2 separate regions of the Homo sapiens genome follow, and region 2 is linked to region 1. Evidence: fine-mapped expression QTL. A gene starts in region 1. The other region holds a variant in brackets. All regions are shown on one strand. Distances are between the middles of the regions.

Region 1 (10,892 bases):
TCAGGCGATCCGCCTGCCTCGGCCTCCCAAAGTGTTAGGATTACAGGCATGAACCACTGCGCCTGGCCTATTTATTTTATTTTTTAATTTTTTGAGACGGAGTCTCCCACTGTTGCTCAGGCTGGAGTGCAGTGGCACAATCTTAGCTCACTGCAACCTCCCTCCTTGGTTCAAGCGATTCTCCTGCCTCAGCCTCCTGAGTAGCTGGGACTACAGTTTTGCGCCACTACGCCCTGCTAATTTTTGTATTTTTAGTAGAGACAGGGTTTTACCATGTTAGCCAGGGTAGTCTAGAACTCCTGACCTCAAGCGATCCGCCCACTTCGGCCTCTAGAAGTGTTGCCACCGCGCCTGGCCAGTTTTTTATTTTTATTTTTTATTTATTTACTTTTTTGAGATGGAGTTTCGCTTTTGTTGCCTAGGCTGGAGTGCAATGGTGTGATCTTGGCTCACTGCAATCTCTGCCTCCTTGGGTTCAAGAGATTCTCCTGCCTTAGCCTCCCAAGTAGCTGGGATTGCAAGCACCCACCATCATGTCCGGCTAATTTTTTTTATACTTTCTCGAATTCCAGACCTCAGGTGATCCACCTGCCTCGGCCTCCCAAAGTACTGGGATTACAGGTGTGAGCCACCGCACCCAACCGTTTTTTATTTTTTAAAATCTTTTATCATCCAGTACAAAATGTAAGGCTGACTTTTTTTTTTTTTTTTTTTTTTTTGAGACAGAGTCTCACTCTGTCCCCCAGGCTGGAGTGCAGTGGTGCGATCTTGGCTCACTACAACCTCCACCTCCTGGGTTCAAGCGATTCTCCTGCCTCAGCCTCCTGAGTAGTTGGGACTACCGGCTAATTTTTAGTAGAGACGGGGTTTCACCATGTTGACCAAGCTGGTCTCAAACTGCTAACCTTGTGATCCGCCCATCTCGGCCTCCCAAAGTGCTGGGATTACAGGCATGAGCCACCGCACCCTGGCCACGAGACAGTTTTAATCTCAGCACTTTGAGAGGCCGAGGAGGGAAGATTGCTTGAGGCCAGGAGTTGGAAACCAGTTAGGTAACATAGTGAGACCCCTGTCTCTGCAAAAATAAATGTGGTAGTGCATGCCTGTGGTTCCAGCTACTGGGGAGGCTGAGGTGGGAGAATCACTTGAGCCTGGGAGGTGGAGGCTGCAGTGAACTGTGATCATATCACTGCACTCCAGCCTGGGCAACAGAGTGAGACCCTGTCTCAAAAAATAAATTAAAAAAGAAAAAGAATGAAGCTTGGCCTCTGCAAACACGGCAGGGTGGCTAGTAAGGGGCTCTGTCTGCATTTGGAAGTCAGGTTTTTTTTTTTTTCTTTCATTTTTGAGACAGAGTTTTGCTCCTGTCCCCAGGCTGGAGTGCAATGGCGTGATCTTGGCTGAATGCAACCTCTGCCTCTCGGGTTCAAGCGATTCTCCTGCCTCAGCCTCCCAAGTAGCTGGGATTACAGGCACCCGCCACCGTGCCCGACTAATTTTTGTATTTTTAGTAGAGACAGGGTTTCACCATGTTGGCCAGGCTGGTCTCGAACACCTCACCTCAGGTGATCCGCCCTCCTCGGCCTCCCAAAGTGCTGAGATTGCAGGCATGAGCCACTGCCCCCTCCTAGAAGTCAATTTTGGTGAGCTTCCCAGCCCAGGGCCTGCTTTCTCAAAGGGCAGGCCCTCTGGCCTCCTGCCTCCAGGCCTCTGTGTCCTCCCCTTGGCTCTTGGCCCTCTCACCTGTGGAAGTGGCCATGCAGGTCAGAGGTGGGGGACCCAGGGGTGTGTGTGACCCCTGGCACGGTGCTTGGCATACAGCAAGCTTGCAGGCAGAGGCAACTGTCCTTATCACTCAGGGGCCAGCCTCCCTGCCCTGGGGCTGTTGTGGAGTGCAGGGGAACAATGGGGGCCTCCTGTTCTGGCCACACTGGCCTCTGCCCTCCTGGGGCTTCTCTCAGTCTTCACCCTGTGCTTTGTGAGCCATGTTATCTTCACTGTCTGCCTCCTACACTGGACTGTGGGCTCCCAGAGGCCAGGGCTGGCTGTCTTGCCCACTGTTAAGTTTTTTGACTCAAATCACAGTGCCTGGCTTGTGGCATGTGCCCTATACCCATCTGCTGATCAGTTGGTTGTGAGGTGGACAAGATAGATGTATGTGTGTGGCATGGGACTTGAAGAGCTTCCTCCCATGCCTCTGAGGGTGGGACAAGCGGGGGAGACCCAGGGAGAGACAGTTACAGGGACTCACATATACCCCAGTTTACACAAGAGGAAACAGATTGAAACAGGTGCAGGCCACCCGACAAGGAAGTAGCTATAACTGTATTGCCCAGACCCCTTCTGGCAAGAGGGGCATGCCTTGGGAAGGTGTGGATGCTGGTCTGGGGAGGGGCGAGGTGCCCCGGGTCACGTCTAGCTCTTTGGCAGGTTCGGAGCGACCTTGGCCGTTGGCCTGACCATCTTTGTGCTGTCTGTCGTCACTATCATCATCTGCTTCACCTGCTCCTGCTGCTGCCTTTACAAGACGTGCCGCCGACCACGTCGTAAGCGTGCCCACCCTGCCCCACTGTGACCCCCTGGGGTGGTAAGGGAAGCTGACCAGGCCCTGCTTTGGCTAAGCTGGAGGGATGGGTGGCAAGCCTGGCTCTCAAGACCTGGGGAGATGGAGGAGGGTCCTGACTGGAATTCTCTTTGCAGCGGTTGTCACCACCACCACATCCACCACTGTGGTGCATGCCCCTTATCCTCAGCCTCCAAGTGTGCCGCCCAGCTACCCTGGACCAAGCTACCAGGGCTACCACACCATGCCGCCTCAGCCAGGGATGCCAGCAGCACCCTACCCAATGCAGTACCCACCACCTTACCCAGCCCAGCCCATGGGCCCACCGGCCTACCACGAGACCCTGGCTGGTGAGTGCCCCTGCCAACTCTAGCCCTGCCCGACTTCCCGAGTCTCTGCCAGCATCCCTCGGGCACCCATCCCAAACTACATCACTCAACAGGCCTCTGCCCCTTTCTGCTTGCCTGCCACTCACACGGCAGCCCACCATGCTCACAGCCAACCAGGGTCCTCTCTGCTTTCAGGAGGAGCAGCCGCGCCCTACCCCGCCAGCCAGCCTCCTTACAACCCGGCCTACATGGATGCCCCGAAGGCGGCCCTCTGAGCATTCCCTGGCCTCTCTGGCTGCCACTTGGTTATGTTGTGTGTGTGCGTGAGTGGTGTGCAGGCGCGGTTCCTTACGCCCCATGTGTGCTGTGTGTGTCCAGGCACGGTTCCTTACGCCCCATGTGTGCTGTGTGTGTCCTGCCTGTATATGTGGCTTCCTCTGATGCTGACAAGGTGGGGAACAATCCTTGCCAGAGTGGGCTGGGACCAGACTTTGTTCTCTTCCTCACCTGAAATTATGCTTCCTAAAATCTCAAGCCAAACTCAAAGAATGGGGTGGTGGGGGGCACCCTGTGAGGTGGCCCCTGAGAGGTGGGGGCCTCTCCAGGGCACATCTGGAGTTCTTCTCCAGCTTACCCTAGGGTGACCAAGTAGGGCCTGTCACACCAGGGTGGCGCAGCTTTCTGTGTGATGCAGATGTGTCCTGGTTTCGGCAGCGTAGCCAGCTGCTGCTTGAGGCCATGGCTCGTCCCCGGAGTTGGGGGTACCCGTTGCAGAGCCAGGGACATGATGCAGGCGAAGCTTGGGATCTGGCCAAGTTGGACTTTGATCCTTTGGGCAGATGTCCCATTGCTCCCTGGAGCCTGTCATGCCTGTTGGGGATCAGGCAGCCTCCTGATGCCAGAACACCTCAGGCAGAGCCCTACTCAGCTGTACCTGTCTGCCTGGACTGTCCCCTGTCCCCGCATCTCCCCTGGGACCAGCTGGAGGGCCACATGCACACACAGCCTAGCTGCCCCCAGGGAGCTCTGCTGCCCTTGCTGGCCCTGCCCTTCCCACAGGTGAGCAGGGCTCCTGTCCACCAGCACACTCAGTTCTCTTCCCTGCAGTGTTTTCATTTTATTTTAGCCAAACATTTTGCCTGTTTTCTGTTTCAAACATGATAGTTGATATGAGACTGAAACCCCTGGGTTGTGGAGGGAAATTGGCTCAGAGATGGACAACCTGGCAACTGTGAGTCCCTGCTTCCCGACACCAGCCTCATGGAATATGCAACAACTCCTGTACCCCAGTCCACGGTGTTCTGGCAGCAGGGACACCTGGGCCAATGGGCCATCTGGACCAAAGGTGGGGTGTGGGGCCCTGGATGGCAGCTCTGGCCCAGACATGAATACCTCGTGTTCCTCCTCCCTCTATTACTGTTTCACCAGAGCTGTCTTAGCTCAAATCTGTTGTGTTTCTGAGTCTAGGGTCTGTACACTTGTTTATAATAAATGCAATCGTTTGGAGCTGCTGCCCCCTTTCTTCCTGGCCTCGGCTGCTGGAATTGGAATCAGGCTGTACTCTTTCCATCCATTTGGGCTTCTCTGTGTTTTCCCTACTTTTACTGGGCTCAGATAGTTGACCATCCTGCTAGGGAAAGTGAGGGACAAACACTGTGCCCTCCTCCCCAGGTCCCTGGGTGTGGGCAGAGGTCTGTGCTGCCAAGAAGGGTAGGAGCCAATTGACCACTCAGTGCTATGGGGCAGCGGGGGTCTTTATTCGTCAGATTTTCCTTCTTGGCCTACTCCCCAGGTGTGGCCAGGGATAGTCCATACAGTGTGGCTACTGCCAAGGTCAGGATGGCCAGCAGACCCAGTGGGGCCAGCAGCCCCTCCCTGGATAGGGCTCCAGGGTCCTTCACTGGAGGAAGATCCTTGGTACCCCTGCTCTCTCCAAGGCTGGGACTAGTGTTCCTGGTTGTGGCCAGGTGTGCAGTGGTTGTGACAGCAGATGGTCTTGGCTTGGTCCTAGCAGAGGCTGTGACCCCATACATGGGCCTGATGGTGCCGAAAGGCCTGGCGTGAGCATCCACCCACCGCAGCAGGGCCTGTGGTCTCCACTGACAGATGCTGAGCAGGGCCAGGACATCACCCTCAGCCGTGTGCGAGTCTGGAGGGGACTGCCCATACAGGCGAGTGTAGATGCTGCCTAGGCTATAGCTCTTCCTTGGGCCGTGTTCTGAGGGGCTGCTTGCTCGCTCCAGGGCCTTCAGCGCAGTGATGCTATCCACACAGAAGGCACCATCCAGAGCACTGGTGAGGCCCAGCATAGCCAGCTCTGCTTGGAGCAGGGGGAAGTCGTAGCGGTCACCATTGTGTGCCACCAGGCACCAGGGCTGTGGCTGGCGCCGCAGGAAGGCTAGGAGCAGGTTGGCCAGGTTGTCATCAAAACATTGACGCCCATGCGCTGCCAGCACAGCTGTGCTCAGACCTGTGATCTCGCTGGCTGCAGGGCTGCAGGCCTTCCCCGGAGCCACACACAGGGAGAGCTTGTCTACCACACGCGGTGGTGGAGGAACTGTGGGAGGTGGCCCCTGAGAGGTGGGGGGGCTCTCCAGGGCACATCTGTGGACAGCCAGCAGGCACAGCTCCGTGACCTTGGGCTGGGAGAAGGGCAAGCCAGTGGCCTCCATGTCGAAAAAGATGAGGGTCTGCATGGGCCCCGGGGGCAGGGCCTGCGAGCCCATGGTTGGGTACGTACCTGCTGCTGAGCCTGGAGAGGAGCATGGGGTGGGTGTGTGAGTGCCCAGTGTTAAGATCCGAAGGGGAGGGAGTGGGGTAGGGGGTGGGCAGAAGCACATCTCAGGCCTTCCCTGCACAATCCTGCCCTGTCTGCGAGCTCCAGGGCCCATTTTCAGGCAGGAAGTTGGAGAGGGTGAGGTGGTTTCCTTAGTGGGACCAGCACATTCGACTGTCTGAGAGGGTCTCCCTCTTCACATGACTCGGCCCCTCCCCTAGTGCCCCCTTAGTCTGGGGTGGGGGAACCCATGGCCCTCCTGCCCTGCGCCATCCCATTGTGGGGGCCACACTCACCGTAGCAGGCAGGCAGGCAGGCAGTAGTGACTCGGCTGCACACTCTCCCGCGGCTCTCGCTGGCAGCAGTGGCGGGAAGTGAAACTTGGCGTGGGCCCGCCTACAGGCCCACGTGAGCCAGGCCCGCCCTGCTCGTCAGCCTGCCTGGTCTGTCCCTCTCACCACCATCCGTTCCCCCCCACACCCACTCCCCTGCTCCCGGGGGACCCCAGAGGCCTTCCAAGATCCACAGCTGTGGCCTGCTGGTGGCACAATGCACCGGGGCCATCATACCAGTGACAGGCAGCTGGAAGGACCAGGGCAGTGGTGCCAGACCAGCTCCCGGTCTTACACACTGCTGGGAGCCCCTGCTGCGGCCCTTTCATGCCCACCTGTGGGTCCCAGTTTCCCAGGCTTTCCTGGTTTAGGCCTGGGCCAAGAGCCACCTCCTTCCCTGCCACACAATGGTTTCTTCCCATGGCCCCAGCCCAAAGCAATGACTCAGGACAATTCCACAGGCAGGGCAGGGCTCCTTCCTCAAGGCAGATCAGTTACCATGGGGACGGGCTCAGCAACAGCCAGGGACAGGAAGAAGGATCCCAGCCACTCAGGGTCCGGGTCCTGCTCCACCCCTCCCACTCCGCCAAACAGATCAGACTCAGGAAACAAGGCCAGCCAGTTCTCTGGGCAGTTCCTGCTGGTCACTGCTTTAATCAGTTGATGTGGTAAGGAAAGGAGTGGTGCTGGTGCCACCATGTGGCTGGACACTCAGGGCCTCAGCCACACTCCACCTCGGGGTCTTCCACATCGGTTTCCGCGGCACAGAGGTCATCCAGGGCTGCCTCTGAGACAAAAAGGAGAGGTTCCTGGTGAGGGCCCAAAGGTGCCAGGGCCTAGGGCAGGTCCCACCTCTCCTCCCCCAACGTCCGCAGGAACTAACCAGTCCCTTCCACACCCAGGCCCTGCTCCCTCAGCTACTGCAAACAAAGTGATACAAAGGCAATTCAGACACGGCTATTTCTGGAAAAACCGTGGCTCTGCCAGGCACACTCAACAGATAGATGCAAAAGGCATCCCAATATGCTTGGAGAAGAACTGAGGCAGGAAGATAAAAGAAAATGGCCCCAGTGCTGGAACAGGCTGCAGTGGGCGGGGGCCTGCTGAGGGGACACCCAGGAATCTGACTTGTTGGGGAACCTCTGGAAGAAGCCATGGGGGCTGGGCAGGATGGCCTCTGGCAGGCTTACCTTCACAGTCCGTCACATCAGGAAGCCCTCGGATGAGCATGCTGACCCCCGGCATCACCTGGTCAAACTGATGCAGGACCTCCACGCAGTGCATCATGAAGAGCTTGTCCTTCTGCGATAGGCCGTGCAGCAGCAGCACCGTGTCCCGCAGACAGCGCACTGTCCGCCTCTGCTGGTCGGTCCTTGGGGGTCCCCCTGCCCTCCGCACTGTCAGCCACTGTCTGTGCAACATCACCGTGAGCGCTCTGACCACCTGAGAGAGGGGGGGTGCAGACTGAGGCCTGGTGCCACCATGGCCTGCACCCTAACAATCCGCTCAGCCTAGCCACCTCACGTGAGGGGGTTTGCAGTGGGGCCTACAGTCCTTGCACGGGGCCCCCTTACCACCAGAGCTGCCAGCTGTTGGCCCCTACCCACTCACCTCCACATTACACTGGCAGTTGGAGCCAGTGACTGGGGGCAAGGGGCTCTGCACACCAAGCTTAGCCAGGAGCCACACCACCTAGAACAAGAACAGATTGGTTCCATCCTGGGCAGAAGGAGACCAGTCCCTGCGAGGGTTTTCTTAAGCTTCTATAAGAGTTCACTTGCTTCAGCAACTGTTTGTCTGCACAAATGGGGTCCAAGAAGTGGTGTGGGACCTTCCCAGGGAAGACCCAGGACAAGCACTCATGTGTCACCAGCAACCCACCTGCCTCCAGCCCCCTATTCTGCCCCCACGTCCCAAAGCCAAGACAGGATCAGTCATCAGGCAACTCTGCCAAGTCCTGTCTGCATTGCATCTGTGTGGTGCACAGCCCCCAAACTGAGTTTACCTCTTTAGTTGCTTTATCAACTCTTGTTACTAAAATGAATTAAAGCTCCGTTTCTCCTCAGCGGAAAGAAAGGAGATTCTGTTGGTTCTTAGGATGGGGTGGGGACAGTGTCCAGAAGGGGCTCTGGAGTTTTTACCTCTTGTTCCAGCTGGAGCCATTGTGTCTCCAAGGCCACTCTGTCAGGCCGTGATGTGATGTACATGTACAGCAGCAGCAGGAGGCAGCCTTCTGAAAAGGACAGCGCACCTCTCACTCAGGGTGCCCTTTCTCATAAAGAGCGTGGGCTACATACTGCAGAAGCCCTCTGAGGCCCTTGACCCTGTTCCCACCCCAACCCTTCCCTTGATCTGCAGGAGCAGTCTAGACGCCCGCCCCACCCTGCTTTACCTGAGTGGGAACAGAGCTGAGGTGCCAGCTGGTCGTGGTCCGCCAGCAGGGAGAGGAGCTCAACAGCCAGCAGCACGCTAGGCAGGGGTGTCTCTGGGCTGAGGCACTTTGGCAGCACTTGGAACACACACTGGAACCTAAAAGACAGGGACCCAGAGAGACGTGACACTCCCCAACCCCAGCTCCATAACCTACCTTCACACTCCACTAGAGGTAACAGAAAATTGAGCAAGTCAGTATGAACAGGTGAGTTGGTTCAGCCAGACTTGGGTTTCAGTGCTGGCCTGACCCCTACTTACTTGCTATGAAACTTGTTTCATGTGAACAAGTGGGCACTTCCACTGCAAGACTGCTGCAGCTGAGAGGACAGGCCCTTATCTGGTGTAGCATCGCCCAGGAAGTGGGATGACCTCCTGGATCTGGGATGCCTGGCTTCCACATGCTCCCAAACAGGGATGCAGGTCCTAACTTAGGTGGGAGAGAAATGTTCTGTGCCCACAGAAGGACTGACCAGGCCTCCAGAGGTGACAAACATGGCCTTGGCTATGGCTGGATCTTATGAGACCTCTCACAGGGCAAGGAAAGCCATTTTCTCTACTTGCCAGAAAACACATCTGCTGCCAGTGGGAGAATGTGCCTACTGTGGGGTGTGCAGGAGGGAGGGGTTCTGGGCATACTGCCCCAGGTCTCAGGGGCAAAAGGAAAGCTATTACCCCAATAAACCAAGCCCCAAGGCAACTGCTGCTGTTTGCTCAACCCACATAGCCTGGGGGAGCACGATGGACTGGCCTGGTGGGTGGGGAGGAGGGCAATTCTGAAACACTCTATGGGGTCTGGCCAGGTGTGTACCCCTTCAGACATCTGCAGTTTCTAAGCACAGAAGGTCAAGATATCCCTCAGTGTGTCCTTAGGAAGCAAGGTCTCACTATGTGGGGTGAACTCACTTTAGGGCAAATCCTGCACAGCAGACAAAAAGTTCAATGCTTTTTAGTTGCCAGGGTGTGCAGCCCTTTGTGGGAAGCTGGAATTTTAACATGGTTATTACCTGGTTTCATTATTGGGCTGTAAGATGTCCAATATCTGCCACTTGCAGAAGGTACTGCAAGGAAAATCCACTTTTATGTACACCACAGTGGTTTCCAAGTTATTTTTTGATAGCGTTAAGAACTTTTTTTTTTTGAAACTGAGTCTCGCTCTGTCACCCAGGCTGGAGTGCAGTGGCGCAAACTCAGCTCACTGCAACCTCCGCCTCCAGGGTTCAAGCGATTCTCCTGCCTCAGCCTCCCGAGTAGCTGGGACTACAGGTGCCTGCCACCACGCCCAGCTACTTTTTTGTATTTTTAGTAGAGACGGGGTTTCACCATGTTAGCCAGGATGGTCTCGATCTCCTGACCTCGTGATCCACCCACCTCGGCTTCCTAAAGTGCTGGGATTACAGGCGTGAGCCACCATGCCCAGCCCCTAAGAACCTCTTTAAATGAAATTTTATGAAGAGCCCCAGTACATGAAATAGATAAATGCCCAGCTGTGGCTGTGTTTTGAATGTCCCTGTGGACAAGCTCAACAGGAGTGGAATAATGGTGTGTCTACCACCAGTAAAAACATGGTTTCTGGGATTCTTTGAGATAGGGTCTCACTCTGTCACCTAGGCTGGAGTGCAGTGGCATGGTCATAGCTCACTGCCACCATGCCTGGCTAATTAAAAAAAAAAAAATTGTAGAGCTGGGAGTCTTGCTTTGTTGCCCACGCTGGTCTCAAACTCCTGGGCTCAAGTGATCCTCCCACCTTGGCCTCCCAAAGTGCTGAGATTACAGGCAGGAGCCACTGTGCCCAGCCTGGGATTCATTCATTTAACAATTATTAAACAAATAACCAAGGCTGGGCCCGGTGGCTCACGCCTGTAATCCTTGCACTTTGGCAGGCCAAGGCAGGTGGATCACCTGAGGTCCGGCATTTGAGACAAGCCTGGCCAACATGGTGAAACCCTGTCTCTACTAAAAATATAAAAAATTAGCCAGGTGTGGTGGCAGGTGCCTGTAATCTCAGCGTCTCAGGAGGCTGAGGCAGGAGAACTGCTTGAACCTGGGAAGTGGAGGTTGCAGTGAGCCGAGATCGCACCACTGCACTCCAGCTTGGACAACAAGAGCAAAACTTCGTCTCAAAACAAAAACAAAAACAAACAAATAAACAACAACAAAAAAAAACAGCCACTATGAGCTGGGCCCCTGCTGGGCACTTGAGTCCTGAGTCTGCCTGATCCCACTGCCCACACTACACTGCAGTGCTGTGTCCAGCTGAGTACCACCTTTAGCATGGGCCAGACCAACCAAAAATATTCAGATGGAAACAGATCTAGGAAACAGCAGTGCTGAGCTCAGAGATGAGATGATTTAAGATATATTCAGCCAGTGGAATCATTCCAACATAGAAACTGACCCTTTGGTAGAGTGCTGAGGGAGACTGGATTACTGGATGAGGGGGTGGGCTGGTTGTGTTCACA
Region 2 (15,132 bases), 150 kb before region 1:
TCCCTAAGGATCCCTCCTGGAGACACAACTGCTCCTCTGGGCTGGGCGTGGTGGCTCACACCCGTAATCCCAGCGCTTTGAGAGGCCGAGGTGGGAGGATCATTTGAGCTCAAGAGTTCGAGACCAGCCTGGGCAACATGGCAACCCCATCCCTACGAAAAATACAAACAAACAAACAAAAATTAGCTGAGCACACACATAGTGGTGTGTGCCTGTAGTACCAACTACTCAGGAAGCTGAGGTGGGAGGATGGCTTGAGCCTGGCAGGCAGTGGTTGCAGTGAGCCAAGATTGTGCCACTGTACTCCAGCCTGGGTGACAGAGCAAGAACTTGTCTCAAAACAAACAAAAACTGCTCCTCTGGCCTGACCAGTACCTGGGGACTCCCTGTGTGATGGGAGAGGACTTACCAACGGGACAGGCTTGGGTGGCTCAGGAAGGGTTGCCCAGAGGAGCCAACAACCTGGCTGAGCCCTGAGGGGAAATGGGTGTGAGGAAGGGAAATCCAGGTGGCGGTCTGGTTCTGAGCAAAAGCCACGTGCTGTGTTTGGTACTCTCTGCACATGGGCAAGGTGGGCAGTGCACATGATAAAGGGCCTCAAGTGCTGAGTGAGGGTACTGGGCCTCTCCAGTGCACAGGGTGAGCTGAGGAGGGACCTGGTCAGCTGAGAAGAGGGGTGGGGGCAGTGGTGAAGCTGGAACCAGATGCTGAGGATCTCTGATGGGGGACTGAGAGCCCCAAGCCCCCATCACTGTGGAGTCGCACACCCTTTGGCTTCACCCATCCTTGTCACCACCTCAGGGAGGTGACTTTAGTCCTGCCATCAAACAGCAGCTGGCTCTGGCTTCCTTCTTCCCAGGCCCTGCAAGGCCCTCCCTTGAGAGGCCACTGCTCTGTCTCCAATAACAGCCCCTCCCCAGATTCTTGGCTCCAGCAGCCCCAACCTGGGGTCAGGCAGGCCGCCCTAGCTGCCTTTGTTTCTATGGCAGTCTCAAACATGCTCTAGTGCCTCAGCCGCCCTTGCTCTAAGGACCCTGGAAAAGAAGGGACCCTCACTTTAATCCCTTTCTCTTTCTTTTTCCCCTTTTTAAAAATTGTTTCTTTTTGTTTTTTTGACGAACTCAAGCAATCCTCCTGCCTTGGCCTCCCAAGTAGCTGAGACTATAGGCATACATCACCATACCCAGCTAATTAAAAAATATATATATATTTGTAGAGATGGAGTCTATCTTGCCCAGGCTGGCTTCAACTGATCCTCTTGCCTCTGCCTCTCAAAGTGCTGGGATGACAGGTATGAGCCACAGTGCCTGTCCCAGGTTCCTGCTTTAGAAAAAGGCAACAACGTTATGAATTCAAAAATGGAAGTGAATTAAAATAATGAGAAAAGAAATGATGATACTTTTTTTTGAAAACTTTTTTTTTAAATTGACAAATACTACAATACTAAATCCAGAAAAATAACATAACTTGTGGCAACTTCCTGACATATTTCTAATACCTTGGTCCCCTACATGGTCTGGCTTCTTACTCTGAAGGCCTCTACAGAGGACAAGGATTTTGTGATTTTTGGGGGAGATATTTTCCATACAGAGAAAAGATACTTCAGTCTTCCTCCTAACATGGTTGAAATTTGTGTTTTAATTATTGGTAGTTTAGGAAAGTTAAACTTCCTAATCTGTTGTTGACGGTGCCATACAAATGTTCTGGATTGTTGTAAAATTTGAGAAACTGTCATCAGCCTTCTTTCATATAGGAACTATGAAATTTGGAAGAATTTTCCACAGACGAGGTTCTGGCTCCACGCATTTCAAACCTTGTTTTCCTTCCATGGCTCACAGTTTTCCCAGCACTGGGTGCCGTGGGGCATGTCCTTAAGGCAATAGGACTTTGCACTTCTGTCCTTACCCAGCAGGATTTTCCTACGAGCCACATTCCTAGTTTATTCTAGAACAAGACCAATAAACTAACTTTACACAAGGGTGGAGCAAACCACATAAATATGTCCCTCTTAACCTGGTGTAGAAAGTAAAAAAAAAAAAGTTCCTCTTCAAAGTTTCCCTTCTTGTTAAAGAATAAATTATAAGTGTTACAAATAATAGTTTCTTTTAAAGACTAACTTCCTTTAAGCCTCCTCACTTTGTGCTAATAACTCTTTGTTAAGCCCTATCTTATGTAGCTGTTAGATATAAAGAAATAAGTACATTCTGTGTCCTTGTACTTTAACCAAAATATTTGTGCTGGACATGCTCACAGGCACATTCCAGCTTGCAGCCTATGTGCCTTCCTTATTTCGAAATGTTATTACTTTTGGCTGGGTGCAGTGACTCACGCCTGTTATCCCAGCACTTTGGGAGGCTGAGGCGGGCAGATCATGAGGTCAGGAGATCAAGACCATCCTGGTTAACACAGTGAAACCCCGCCTCTACCAAAAATGCAAAAAAGATTAGCCAGGCATGGTGGTGGGTGCCTGTAGTCCCAGCTACTCCGGAAGCTGAGGCAGAAGAATGGCGTGAACCCATGGCAGAGCTTGCAGTGAGCCGAGATCATGCCATTGCACTCCAGCCTGGGCGACAGAGCAAGACTCCATCTCAAAAAAGAAAAAAAAGAAAAAAAGAAATGTTATTACTTTTCTAAGTCCTTCTAAGTCCTTTCGTAAGCAATTTCCTCTTTTCCTTTGTTCTCCCTTGCCTTTACCTATTTAAGAAAATTTTAAGTTATTAGCCGGTCAAGTTTAGCTTAGATTGTGCAGTCCGTCTCCAGCCAATGGAGGCAGGACACAGTAGCAAGGACAAGCTGCATAAAGAATAAAAATTGCTTCCCTCCTTTGTTCAAGTGTGCTCTCACCATTGTTTCATCTGCAAGGAGCACCCTTTCTGCAGAAAGTAAATTTGCCTTGCTGAGAAAACTTTTTGTCTCAATGCTAATTTTTCCTTGCGGTACTGAAGAACAGCATTCTGTTTCTGAATAAACATTTTACTTATAACACCCAGTGTGTCCCTGTGGTAGACTCAGAGATATGCCACACAAAGGCCAGCTGCTGCCAGCCACTCAGGGGACGGCCAGCAGACAGGTCCACTCTGGCTGTGGCAGAGCCCCTATAGCCAGACTTCTTCCTTGCCCAACCCTTTCCCTCCTTCCCTGAGGTGCTCATCTCAAGGGACTCTTGTAAATATCTTGTGCTCTGATCTTCCTCTTGGAGTTGGATTCCTAGAGAACCCAACCTGGGACCATCTTCAACCCACCTTCCCTTTGGCTGGACCCCGAAAATGCCACAGCCTCTCTGATGTCCTCCAAGTGAGGGGAAGTGGGCTGGAGTCAAAAGAGAGACAGGGTCTCACTATGTTGCCCTGGTCTCAAACTCCTGAACTCAAATGACTCTCCCACCTCAGCCTCCCAAAGTTCTGAGATCATAGGCATGAGCCACTGCACCTGGCTGAAAAAGAGATTGTGATGGGAAGTATCCCTCAGGAAGCCCAGGCATTGGAATTATTAATCAAAAACAATAAATCAACTGTCTTAGTATGTTCAATGAACTAAGGGAAGCCATGGACAAAGAACTAAAGGAAATTAGGAAAATTATGTCTGAACATAAAGAATACTAATAAAGAGGGCCGGGCGCGGTGGCTCATGCCTGTAATCCCAGCACTTTGGGAGGCCTAGGTGGGTGGATCACGAGGTCAGGAGATCAAGACCATCCTGGCTAACACAGTGAAACCCCATCTCTACTAAAAATACAAAAAATTAGCCGGGCACAGTGGTGGGCACCTGTAGTCCCAGCTACTCGGGAGGCTGAGGCAGGAGAATGGCATGAACTGGGGAGGCAGAGCTTGCAGCGAGCCAAGAGTGCCACTGCACTGTGGCCTGGGTGAAAGAGCAAGACTCTGTCTCAAAAAAAAAAAAAAAAAAAAAATTAATACAGAGAAAAATTTTAAAGGGACCAAACAAATTCTGAACCTGAAAGCAAATCATTTGTCAGTAATCTCATTAAATATAAATAGATTAAACTCTCCTATTAATAAATGAATTTTCAGATTGGTTTTTTAAAAAAGGTTAATCTATATGTTGTCTATCAGAGACTCACTTCAGATATAAGAACATAAAAACACCAGAAGTAAAAGGATGGAAGAAATATTTTATGGCCTGGCATGGTGGCTTACACCTGTAATCCCAGCACTTTGGGAGGCTGAGGCAGGTGGATTGCTTAAAGAGTTTGAGACCAGCCTGGGCAACAAGGCAAAACCCCATTTCTACAAAAAACACAAAAAATTAGCTGGGCATGGTGGTGTGCACCTTTAGTCCCAGCTACCCCGGAGGCTGAGGTGGGAGGATCACCTGATCTCAGGAAGGTCAAAGCTGCAGTGAGTCATGATCACACCACTGCACTCTAGCCTGGGGCAACAGAGTGAGACTCTGTTTCAAGAAAGAAAAAAAGAAAAAGAAAAAGAAAAAAAAATACTTCATGCAAATAGCAACCAGAAGAGAGTCAAGGTGGCTTTATTATTGTCAGGTATAGTAGCCTCTAAATCAAAAAGATTACAAGAGACAAAGAAGGACGTTATCTATTGATAAAAATTGCTTTTTTTTTTTGAGACGGAGTCTCACTTTGTCGCCTAGGCAGGAGTGCAGTGGCGCAATCTCGGCTCACTGCAACCTCTGCCTCCTGGGTTCATGCCATTCTCCAGCCTCGGCTTCCTGAGTAGCCGGGACTACAGGTGTCTGCCACCATACCCAGCTAATTTTTTTTGTACTTTTTTTTTTTTTTTTTTTTTTTTGAGACGGAGTCTCGCTCTGTCGCCCAGGCTGGAGTGCAGTGGCGGGATCTCGGCTCACTGCAAGCTCTGCCTCCCGGGTTCACGCCATTCTCCTGCCTCAGCCTCCCAAGTAGCTGGGACTACAGGCGCCCGCCACTACGCCCGGCTAATTTTTTGTATTTTTAGTAGAGACGGGGTTTCACCGTTTTAGCCGGGATGGTCTCGATCTCCTGACCTCGTGATCCGCCCGCCTCGGCCTCCCAAAGTGCTGGGATTACAGGCGTGAGCCACCGCGCCCGGCATTTTTTTTGTATTTTTAGTAGAGACGGGGTTTCACTGTGTTAGCCAGGATGGTCTCTGTCTCCTGACCTCGTGATCTTCCTGCCTTGGCCTCCCAAAGTGCTGGGATTACAGGCGTAAGCCACTGCGCCCAGCCTTTTTTTTTTTTTGAGACAGAGTTTCGCTCTTGTTGCCCAGGCTGGAGTGCAATGGCATGATCTTGGCTCACCACAGCCTCTGCCTCCCGGGTTCAAGCAATTCTCCTGCCTCAGCCTCCTGAGTAGCTGGGATTACAGGCATGCGCCACCATGCCCTACTAATTTTGTATTTTTAGTAGAGACGGGGTTTATCCATGTTGGTCAGGCTGGTCTTGAACTCCTGACCTGAGGTGATCCACCCACCTAATAAAAGTTTCAAAACAAGGCAATATGACAATTAGAAACATTTATGTGCCTAACGGAGCCCCAAAAATAATGAAACAAAAATTATCAGAATTGAAAGTAGTCAGCTCTACAATTATAGTTCATATTTCAACCCCCCACTTTCAATAATGAATAGAACAGGCAGGCGTGGTGGCTCACGCCTGTAATCCCAGGACTTTGGGAGGCTGAGGTGGGCGGATCACCTGAGGTCAGGAGTTCGAGACCAGCCTGGTCAAGATGGTGAAACCTTGTCTCTACTAAAAATACAAAAACTATCTGTGCATGGAGACAGGCCCCTGTAATCCCAGCTACTTGGGAGGCTGAGGCATGAGACTTGCTTGAACCAGGAGGTGGAGGTTGCAGTGAGCCTAGATCACACCACTGCACTCCATCCAACCTGAGCAACAAGAGCAAACTCCGTCTCAAAAAAAAAAAAAAAAAAAAAGCTGCGTGCAGTGGCTCATGCCTGTAATCCCAGCACTTTGTGAGACCAAGGCAGGAGAATCACTTGAGCCCAGGAGTTCGAGACCAAGCTGGGTAATGTGGCAAAATCCCATCTCTATTTAAAAAAATTAAAAGTAAATTTAAAAAATAAAAAGAAACATCTAGAAGAATAAATAGGTGAATGTATCAAACAGAGTAAGAAGGGTAAGTTGAGTGCCAGAGCCCTCCCTACAGAACACAGCCTGCATGGACCTGGTACAAGTTTGAGAATCTATGGGATGATAGAGGGAACAACAGAGATGGGTAGGGAAACAGGGCCTCATCAAGAAACGGTGTTACAAAATTTAGTTTGCCTTTTAGGGGGAGAGAGGATATTTTGACCTTACCTCACTCTATATACCAAGTAAATTCCAGAGAATCAATGAGTCACCAAACACTGTTGCAAAATTATTGCAATGATCACTGCTTGCACTTAACCTTTTAGTAATATTTCCTGTTTTGACCAACCCCTTGAAACGCATCGTTCCCAACCAGCATCAGACTTCCTAGTTGTCTCCTACTTCAATGGCCTTCCCTTCTTAGCCCAGGGTAGCAGTGGGTATAGGTAGGGAGGCTAGGTGACTGGGTTTAGGAATATTTCATTTGGGAGGCTGAGGTGGGAGGATCACTTGAGCCTAGGAGTTCAAGACCAGACTGGGGAATATAGTGAGACCCCATCTCTAGAAAAATGTTTTTAAAAATTAGCTGGGTGTGATGGTGCATGCCTATATAGTTCCAGCTACTCAGGAGGCTGGAGTGGGAAGATGGCTTGAGCTGGAAGGTTGAGGCTGCAGTGAGCCATGATCACACCACTGCATTCCAGCCTGAGTGACAGAAAGCCAGACCCTCTCAAAAAAAAAAAAGAAAGAGAGAGAAAGGAAGGGAGGAAGGAAGGAAGGAAAGGAAGGAGGGAGGGAAGGAAGGAAGGAAGGAAAGGAAGCAGGCAGGCCGGGTGCGGTGGCTCACACCTGTAATCCCAGCACTTTGGGAGGCCAAGGTGGGTGGATCACCTGAGGTTGGGAGTTTGAGACCAGCCTGACTAACATGGAGAAACCCCATCTCTACTAAAAATACAAAATTAGCTAGGCGTGATGGCACATGCCTGTAGTCCCAGCTACTCGGGAGACTGAGGCATGAGCATCGCTTGAACCCGGGAGGCAGAGGTTGCTGATAAGATTGCGCCATTGCACTCCAACCTGGGCAACAAGAGCGAAACTCGGTCTCAAAAATAAAAAAGGTCGGGCGTGGTAGCTCATGCCTGTAATCCCAGCACTTTGGCAGATCACGAGGTCAAGAGATCGAGACCATCCTGGCCAACATGGTGAAATCCCATCTCTACTAAAACTACAAAAATTAGCTGGGTGTGGTGGCACATGCCTTAGTCCCAGCTACTTGGGAGCCTGAGGCAGGAGAATCGCTTGAACCCAGGAGGCGGATGTTGCAGTGAGCCAAGATCATGCCACTGCACTCCAGCCTGGCAACAGAGCGAGACTCCATCTCAAAAAAAAAAAAAAAAGAGATCACGTCCAGGGGCGGTGGCTCACATCTGTAGTCCCAGCACTTTGGGAGGCCAAGGCAGGAGGCTCACTTGAGCCTGGAGTTTGAGACCAGCCTGGGCCACATAGTGAAATCCTGTCTCTACAAAAAATATAAAAGTTAGCTGGGTATGATGGTGTGCACCTGTGTTCCCAGCTACTCAGGAGCCTGAGGTAGAAGGATCACTTGAGCCAGGGCATGGTGGCGTGTGGCGTCCCAGCTACTTGGAAGGCTGAGGCAGGAGAATTGCTTGAATCCAGGAGGCTGAGGTTGCAGTGAGCCAAGATCACGCCACTGCACTTCAGCCTGGGTGACAGAATGAGACTCTGTCAAAAATTAGCGATGTTGGCATGTGCCTGCAGTTCCAGCTACTCGGGAGGCCGAGGCAGGAGAATTGCTTGAACCTGGGAGATGGAGGTTGCAGTGAGCAGAGATCCTGCCACTGCACTCCAGCCTGGGTGACAGAATGAGACTCTGTCTCAAAAAAGAAAGAAAAAAATAGAGATCATAAGACTGAGAGAATGAACCCTTTGTAGCAATAAGATACCAAAGTATAAACAAGACATTAAGGCCATGCCAGGCAAGAGTTAAGCCGTTCACCAAAGAATAAACTATGTTCTAACTGCTGCAAGGTTTTTCTTTTTCTCCAGCAGCTAAACAAGCACTGGCCTTGAGATAAGCAATATAGAAACAATTGCAGTTCATCCATCACCAGACACTGACCCCACAAGCCATAACTATAGCTTTGATTGCACAAGAGATGGATTTTGGTGACTTTTTCCTAATAAGAGACCACTGACCAGGGACTGGCTTCAGTTGGTTTATGGAACCTGTGCACTGAGTGCTTTTGTATCCTTCATTTTGACATATGGTGCTAATTGTATTTCTTTTCTTTTTTTTTTTTTTTTTTGAGATGGAGTCTCCCTCTGTAGCCCAGGCTGGAGTGCAGTGGTGCGATCTTGGCTCACTGCAACCTCCGCTTCCCGGTTTCAAGTGATTCTCCTTCCTCACCCTCCTGAGTAGCTGGGACTACAGGCATACGCCACCACGCCCAGCTAATTTTTGTATTTTTAGTAGAGACGGGGTTTTACTGTGTTGGCCAGGATGGTCTTGATCTTCTGACCTCGTGAGCCACCCACCTCGGCTTCCCAAAGTGCTG[A/G]GATTATAGGCGTGAGCCACCGCACCCGGCCTGTAATGTATTTCAATGTTAAGTCTCCACCCCAAAGTGAACATGGGTCATATACAACACACATGTTTATTCAGTATACTTGCATTAGGACCCCCTTCATGAGTATCTATAGCTCTTCCTGTAACCTGTTGAATATGGTATTTTTTGTTTTTGTTTTTTCTTTTTTGAGACAGAGTCTCGCTCTGTCACCCAGGCTGGAGTGCAGTGGCGCGATCTCGGCTCACTGCAACCTCCGCCTCCCAGGTTCAAGCGATTCTTCTGCCTCAGCTTCCCGAGTAGCTGGGATTATAGGCACATGCCATCATGCCTGGCAGATTTTTTGTATTTTTAGTAGAGACGGGGTTTCACCATGTTAGCCAGGATGGTCTCAATCTCCTGACCTTGTGATCCGCCCACCTCGGCCTCCCAAAGTTTGGGATTACAGGTGTGAGCCACCGTGCCCGGCCGAATATGTATGTTTAGCCAAGCCATTCGACATAAAGCTCCTGCCTCTTTTTAAGGGTCTGTCTCTGGTTTTGACCAGAAGCCCACCTCCCAGCCTGCAGGTTGTAACCCTTTATAAGAAATAAAGTCAGCCTGGCACGGTGGCTCATGACTGTAATCCCAGCACTTTGGGAGGCTGAGGTAGGAGGATCACTTGAGCTCAGGAGTTTAAGATCAGCCTGGGCAACATAATGAGACCCCCGTCTCCACAAAAAATAAAAAAAAATTAGCTGGGTGTGGTGTGAGAGCCTGTGGTCATGGCATCTGGCATGATTTTTATAAAGATAGTTTTATTTTAAGTATAAGAGTAGTTTTTGGGTAAGGTGTGGTGGCTCACCCCTGTAATCCTAGCACTTTGGGAGGCTGAGGTGGGTGGATTGCTTGAGGCCAGGAGTTTGATATCAGCCTGGCCAACATGGTAAAAAATGCAATGATCCTAGCCCTTGCCTCTTCCTGTACTTAAGATACTGTCTGACAGGATTAATGATTATGCTTCTGTGACCTATAAACAGATGTACTCTTGCACCCAAACCTTGATGAGATTTATGCTCTAATGTAACTTCTGAGCACATTTGATGTAATTTCTGAGCACATGGAGAGCCGCCACCACCAGTGTATAAACTGTCGGAAACACTGCTTTGGAGCAGTCTAGCAGAAACTCCCTGAAAGGCTCTCCCGGGTTGCAATTCTTGGTAAGACTTCTGAATAGAACTAACTTTAAATATTTAAAAGCTTGTTTTTTTTTTTCTTTAGTTGACATAACAAAGCATACCTTAGAAGTCTTTTTTTTTTTTTTTTTTTTTTTTTGAGACGGAGTTTCGCTCTTGTTGCCCAGGCTGGAAATGGCGCGATCTCGGCTCACCGCAACCTCCGCCTCCCGGGTTCAAGTGATTCTCCTGCCTCAGCCTCTGGAGTAGCTAGGATTACAGGCATGCGCCACCACGCCCGTCTACTTTTGTATTTTTAGTAGAGACGGGGTTTCTCCATGTCGGTCAGGCTGGTCTCAAATTCCCGACCTCAGGTGATCCGCCCACCTCGGCCTTCCAAAGTGCTGGGATTACAGGCATGAGCCACTGCACCCAGCCAGAATTCTTTTTCCTCTTACAGAAAAGGAAAGGTTTCACCATGTTGGCCAGGCTGGTCTTGGACTCCTCGCCTCAAGTGATCCACCTGCCTCGGCCTCCCAAAGTGTTGGGATTACAGGAGTGAGCCACCGCTCCCGGCCTGTACTTAGTTCTTTTAAAGAGAAAACTGGCAGGGCGCAAAACTGGCCAACATGGAGAAACCTTGTCTCTTCTAAAGAAACAAAAATTACCGGGCATAATCCCAGCTACTCGGGAGGCTGAGGCAGGAGAATCGCTTGAAGCCGGGAGGCGGAGGTTGCAGTGAGCCGAGATCGCGCCATTGCACTCCAGCCTGGGCGACAGAGCGAGACCCTGTCTCAGAAAATAAAAAATAAATAAAGAGAAAAAAATACTGACTTTCAGCACCAACTTGTGGTCCCAGGTAAGTTTCCACGCTGGTACTTTAGCCCTGGGCTCGAACCTGCGGACACGCTGTGGCTGCAACTCCCCGCCCGCCAGACCTCAGTACGCAGCGCGGCTGGTGAGAAACATAATGCACTCTGACTTCCACGCGTGGAATGGGGAGATGGACTGCACGGCGGGCGGACCTGCTCGGGCTGATGGACGGCAGGTGGACTGATGTGCGCAGGGACTGGCGGCAGCGCGGTCAGAGCCAGTCAGCCAAAGCCAGGCCAGCACAATAGACTGTCCCGGTTCCCGCCAGGAGGCGGCCGAGCACCAACTGTACGGTACTGCGCCTGCGCCGCGACCGCCAACGCGCCCAGTCTACGCTTGCGCGGCGCAACAGGGCCGACTGCAGCTGGAAGATGGCGGCGTCCGTGGTCTGTCGGGCCGCTACCGCCGGGGCACAAGTGCTATTGCGCGCCCGCCGCTCGGTGAGGTGGTGGCGAGAGCGCGGGGCTTCGGGACAGGGCTTCGGGAAGCGGACAGGTGTGGGCTGTTAGCAGTGGCAGGTCGAGGTGGGGAGGACGCGGGGTCAGGGCCGTGGGAAGGTCACGGCGGAGGGCGGGGAAAGGTATCTCGCCGCTTGCCTAGGGGCGGGGTTCGGGGGTCCTCCTGAGGACCTGGGAGGTGGGGAGCGATCCCCTGACCGAGTCCTCACTCGCGGCTGTTCCCTTCCACAGCCGGCCCTGCTGCGGACGCCAGCCTTGCGGAGTACGGCAACCTTCGCTCAGGCGCTCCAGTTCGTGCCGGAGACGCAGGTTAGCCTGCTGGACAACGGCCTGCGTGTGGCCTCCGAGCAGTCCTCTCAGCCCACTTGCACGGTGAGTTGGGGACGCTTTTGGGGAGAGGGCCTCCAGGTTGGGCCTGCCGTCTTTTCCCTGGTTGGGGTGTGACCTTGGGCTCGAGTCTTCCCGTTTGTGGTTTGGGTTCGGACCCAGGACCACTCACCCCGAGAATGGCCCCATTCCCTACCCTAGCCACGCCTTGGCTTCACGGGACAATCTTCACTATAAGCCAACATTATTTAGCATATAATGCCCGTTAAGTAGGCGGCCAAATTCTTTTCCAGCCTTTTGTTAAGGAGCCCATATAAGGGAAGTGATCATGTCTCCTCTTATAATGCGGAAAATGGGATTCAGACACCTTAGGTGACTTGCAGGGGTCCAGGTCTGTCAGCCTCACTGCCCAAGGTCATAATCTCCAGGCTAGACCAGAAATACATTTTAGGAAGCAAATGCATTTTAACAGTACAATGAAATGTGTGATTTTCCAAAAAATACAAATTCTCTAAATTGACACAAGAAATCTTGAGTCACAGATAGATATATGAATAGGTGAGAAGATTCCCAAGAAATAATTATCTCCTCCTCCTTTCAGCCCCCAGCCCCAGGGCCAGATGTTTTTATTGACACATCCTTTTAGTTTTCCAGAAACAATGTCCTGCGATTTAAATTGTTACTAAGCATAGGAAAAGGTGGCCTGCAACTTCCTTGTTATATGTCACTTGTTATAGTAAAGAATGCTATATTACATGAACTCTAAAATGTGCTAGATTGTAAGGAGCTGTCTGTGCTCCAGTGCCAGAGAAAGAATCTCAAGAATCTTGCCAATTTTAATCAAAGGATACTATAGATTGTAAAATGCCTCTTGCATTCCAAGATGTTAGATGTGAAATACATGTTCATCTAAGATTGTGTGATATATGGTATATGCATTGACATCTCTTAGGAAAGCAAATATCACATGTTCTCACTTATCAGTGGGAGCTAAAAAATACGTACATACAGATGTAGAGAGTGGAATGATGGACAGTGAAGACTTGGAAGGATGAAGGGGTGGATGATGAGAAACTACTTAATGGGTCCAGGCCTGGAGGCTCACACCTGTAATCTCAGCACTTTGGGAGACCAAGGCAGGCGGATCAGCTGAGGCCAGGAGTTCAAGACCAGCCTGGCAAACATAGTGAAGCCCCATCTCTACTAAAAATACAAAAATTAGCCATGCATGGCACACGCCTGTAATCCCAGCTCCTGGGGAGACTGAGGCAAGAGAATCGCTTGAACCCGGGAGGCAGAGATTGCAGTGAGCCGAGATGGAGCCACTGCACTCCAGCCTGGGTGAGAGAGCGAGAGTCCATCTCAAAAAAAAAAAAAGAAATTACTTAATGGGTACAAGGTTTGTTATTCTGGTGATGGATAATTCAGAATCCCTGATTTGACTACTTGTGCATTCTGTGCCTGTAATGACATCACACTTGTGGGCGGGGCACAGTGGCTTACACCAGTAATTCCAGGGCTTTGAGAGGCCAAAGCAGGAGGATCGATTGAGCCCAGGAATAAGAGGTTGCAGTGAGCCATGATTATGTCACTGTACTCTGGCCTGGGTGACAGAGCAAGGCCCTCTGTCTTAAAAAAAAAAAAAAAGAAAAAAATGGAGTTTCAGGTGTGGATAGAAATTTCTAAAAATTGTGCTTGTACCCCATAAATTTATACAATAAAAAAAAGTCTTGGCTGGGCGCAGTGGCTCATGCCTATAATCCCAGCACTTTGGGAGACCGAGGCAGGCGGATCACGAGGTCAAGAGATTGAGACCATCCTGGCCAACATGGTGAAACCCCGCCTCTACTAAAAATACAAAAATTAGGCTAGACGCGGTGGCTCACGCCTGTAATCCCAGCACTTTGGGAGGCCGAGGCGGGCGAATCACAAGGTCAGGAGATTGAGACCATCCTGGCTAACACGGTGAAACCCCGTCTCTACTAAAAATACAAAAAATTAGCCGGGCGTGGTGGCGGGCGCCTGTAGTTCCAGCTACTCGGGAGGCTGAGGCAGGAGAATGCCATGAACCTGGGAGGCAGAGCTTGCAGTGAGCCAAGATCGCACCACTGCACTCCAGCCTGGGTGACAGAGCGAGACTCCGTCTCAAAAAAAAAACACACACACACAAAAAAACAAAAATTAGCTGGGCGTGGTGGTGCACGCCTGTAGTTCCAGCTACTCGGGAGGCTGAGGCGGGAGAATCACTTGAACCCAGGAAGCAGAGGTTGAGTGAGCCGACATCACACCACTGCACTCGTCTCGTGACAGAGTGAGACTCCATGTCAAAAAAAAAAAAAAGTACTTAGGAAAGTAGATGTGAAAAACTTAAATCAGCTGTGAACAAATAGTAAATTAAAAGACTAGACCGTGTGACCAAGTGGGGTGAGTGGTACGTGTTTCTTTTACATTTTTTTTTTTTTTTTGAGATGGAGTCTCTCTGTCACCCAGGCTGGAGTGCAGTGGCACGATCTTGGCTCACTACATCCTCTGCCTCTTGGGTTCAAGCAATTCTGCCTCAGCCTCCCAAGTAGCTAGGACTACAGGCACGTGCCACCACACCTGGCTAATTTTTGTATTTTTAGTAGAGACAGGGTTTCACTATATTGGCCAGGCTGGTCTCGAACTGCTGACCTCGTAATCCACCTGCCTTGGCCTCCCAAAGTGCTGGGATTACAGGTATAAGCCACCGCGCCCAGCCTGTGGTGCGTGTTTCACAGCAACCAGGAGGCTGTCAAGAAAATTAATATTACCTTATTGGGTGCCAAGGCAACACTGTTTGGTGTTCAGAGCTGATTAAAAACAACAACAAAAAAGATATTATAGGAACAATATTTAGTGTGATAAAATATACAGTCTAAACCAATAGTCCCTTCCTTAATGATGAAAGGATAAAATCATTGCCAGAACAAAGGCAGCGTGTAATTTTTAGAAAGGAAAAAATAAGTTGTTATTTGCAAATGATATGTTGTATGCTTAGACAAAAACAAATAATTAACTGAAAATTGAGAGTGAATTTAAGGATTTGTATGCTGGTGAGACCAGGTAAATGTGCACAGTTAGAAGTGTCCCTGTGGGTCCTTGATAGCCAATCAGGAGAGCAATGATGTGGTGTGACGAGTCATTCGGCTGCCCCTGTTTTCCAAGCATGACTGTGTCCCCAAGCACAGGGGTCCTGCTGGGGCAGCTCTCCCTGACTCCAGGATTCATAAGTCCCTGCCTGGGGCTTGTACTGAGTCACTCAGGTGGGGTGTGAGTAGGGGGCTGGGGAGTGGTTTGTTTGTAACCTTTTCTGGTGGCTTCTTGACCAGGTGGGAGTGTGGATTGATGTTGGCAGCCGTTTTGAGACTGAGAAGAATAATGGGGCAGGCTACTTTTTGGAGCATCTGGCTTTCAAGGTGAGGCTCTTAAAGTCTGTCTCCTCTGGGCTTAGGGCTGCCTGTTGTCCCTCCTGAGGATGAAGGTCAGAAAAATTAGCCTGATTATGGGCCTCAGTTGCGGGGCTGATGTCTGGCTGGCTTTCCTAAAAGGAGCCACATGAGCTTAACCTCTCCTGAGTGGGCACGTATCTGATGAGCCCCTGCCTGAGGCCCTCAGAGCCAAGAGGACCCAAGGAACCATAGGAGCCCCACTTTTCACCAGAGA

What was found. PIP is the estimated chance that this variant, and not a neighbour inherited with it, causes the effect.
Region 2: its variant is fine-mapped to the expression of TREX1 in whole blood (TOPMed, PIP 0.98).

What each region holds. Positions count from the first base shown.
Region 1 is chr3:48,461,382-48,472,273 of GRCh38, reverse strand. It overlaps TREX1 (three prime repair exonuclease 1), which reads right to left and starts at 6,044. Exons shown (of 2, transcript NM_033629.6): 1 at 5,965-6,044; 2 at 4,629-5,644. The coding sequence starts at 5,618. The coding sequence ends at 4,674. It overlaps ATRIP (ATR interacting protein), which reads right to left. Exons shown (of 13, transcript NM_130384.3): 9 at 8,393-8,529; 10 at 8,142-8,233; 11 at 7,612-7,692; 12 at 7,191-7,443; 13 at 4,629-6,787. The coding sequence ends at 6,720. It overlaps SHISA5 (shisa family member 5), which reads left to right. Exons shown (of 6, transcript NM_016479.6): 4 at 2,431-2,546; 5 at 2,701-2,913; 6 at 3,088-4,398. The coding sequence ends at 3,167. ATRIP-TREX1 (ATRIP-TREX1 readthrough) reads right to left here. Exons shown (of 15, transcript NR_153405.1): 9 at 10,829-10,892; 10 at 8,393-8,529; 11 at 8,142-8,233; 12 at 7,612-7,692; 13 at 7,191-7,443; 14 at 5,965-6,787; 15 at 4,629-5,644. RefSeq lists enhancers at 3,447-4,213, 4,355-5,234, 5,449-5,648, 5,235-6,116, 6,729-6,818 and 1 more.
Region 2 is chr3:48,605,523-48,620,654 of GRCh38, reverse strand. UQCRC1 (ubiquinol-cytochrome c reductase core protein 1) reads left to right here and starts at 11,009. Exons shown (of 13, transcript NM_003365.3): 1 at 11,009-11,103; 2 at 11,353-11,493; 3 at 14,799-14,885. The coding sequence starts at 11,035. RefSeq lists enhancers at 6,410-6,909, 10,619-10,728, 10,425-10,939, 11,019-11,118 and a silencer at 11,289-11,388. The variant A/G (reference allele first, on the strand shown) is at 8,631.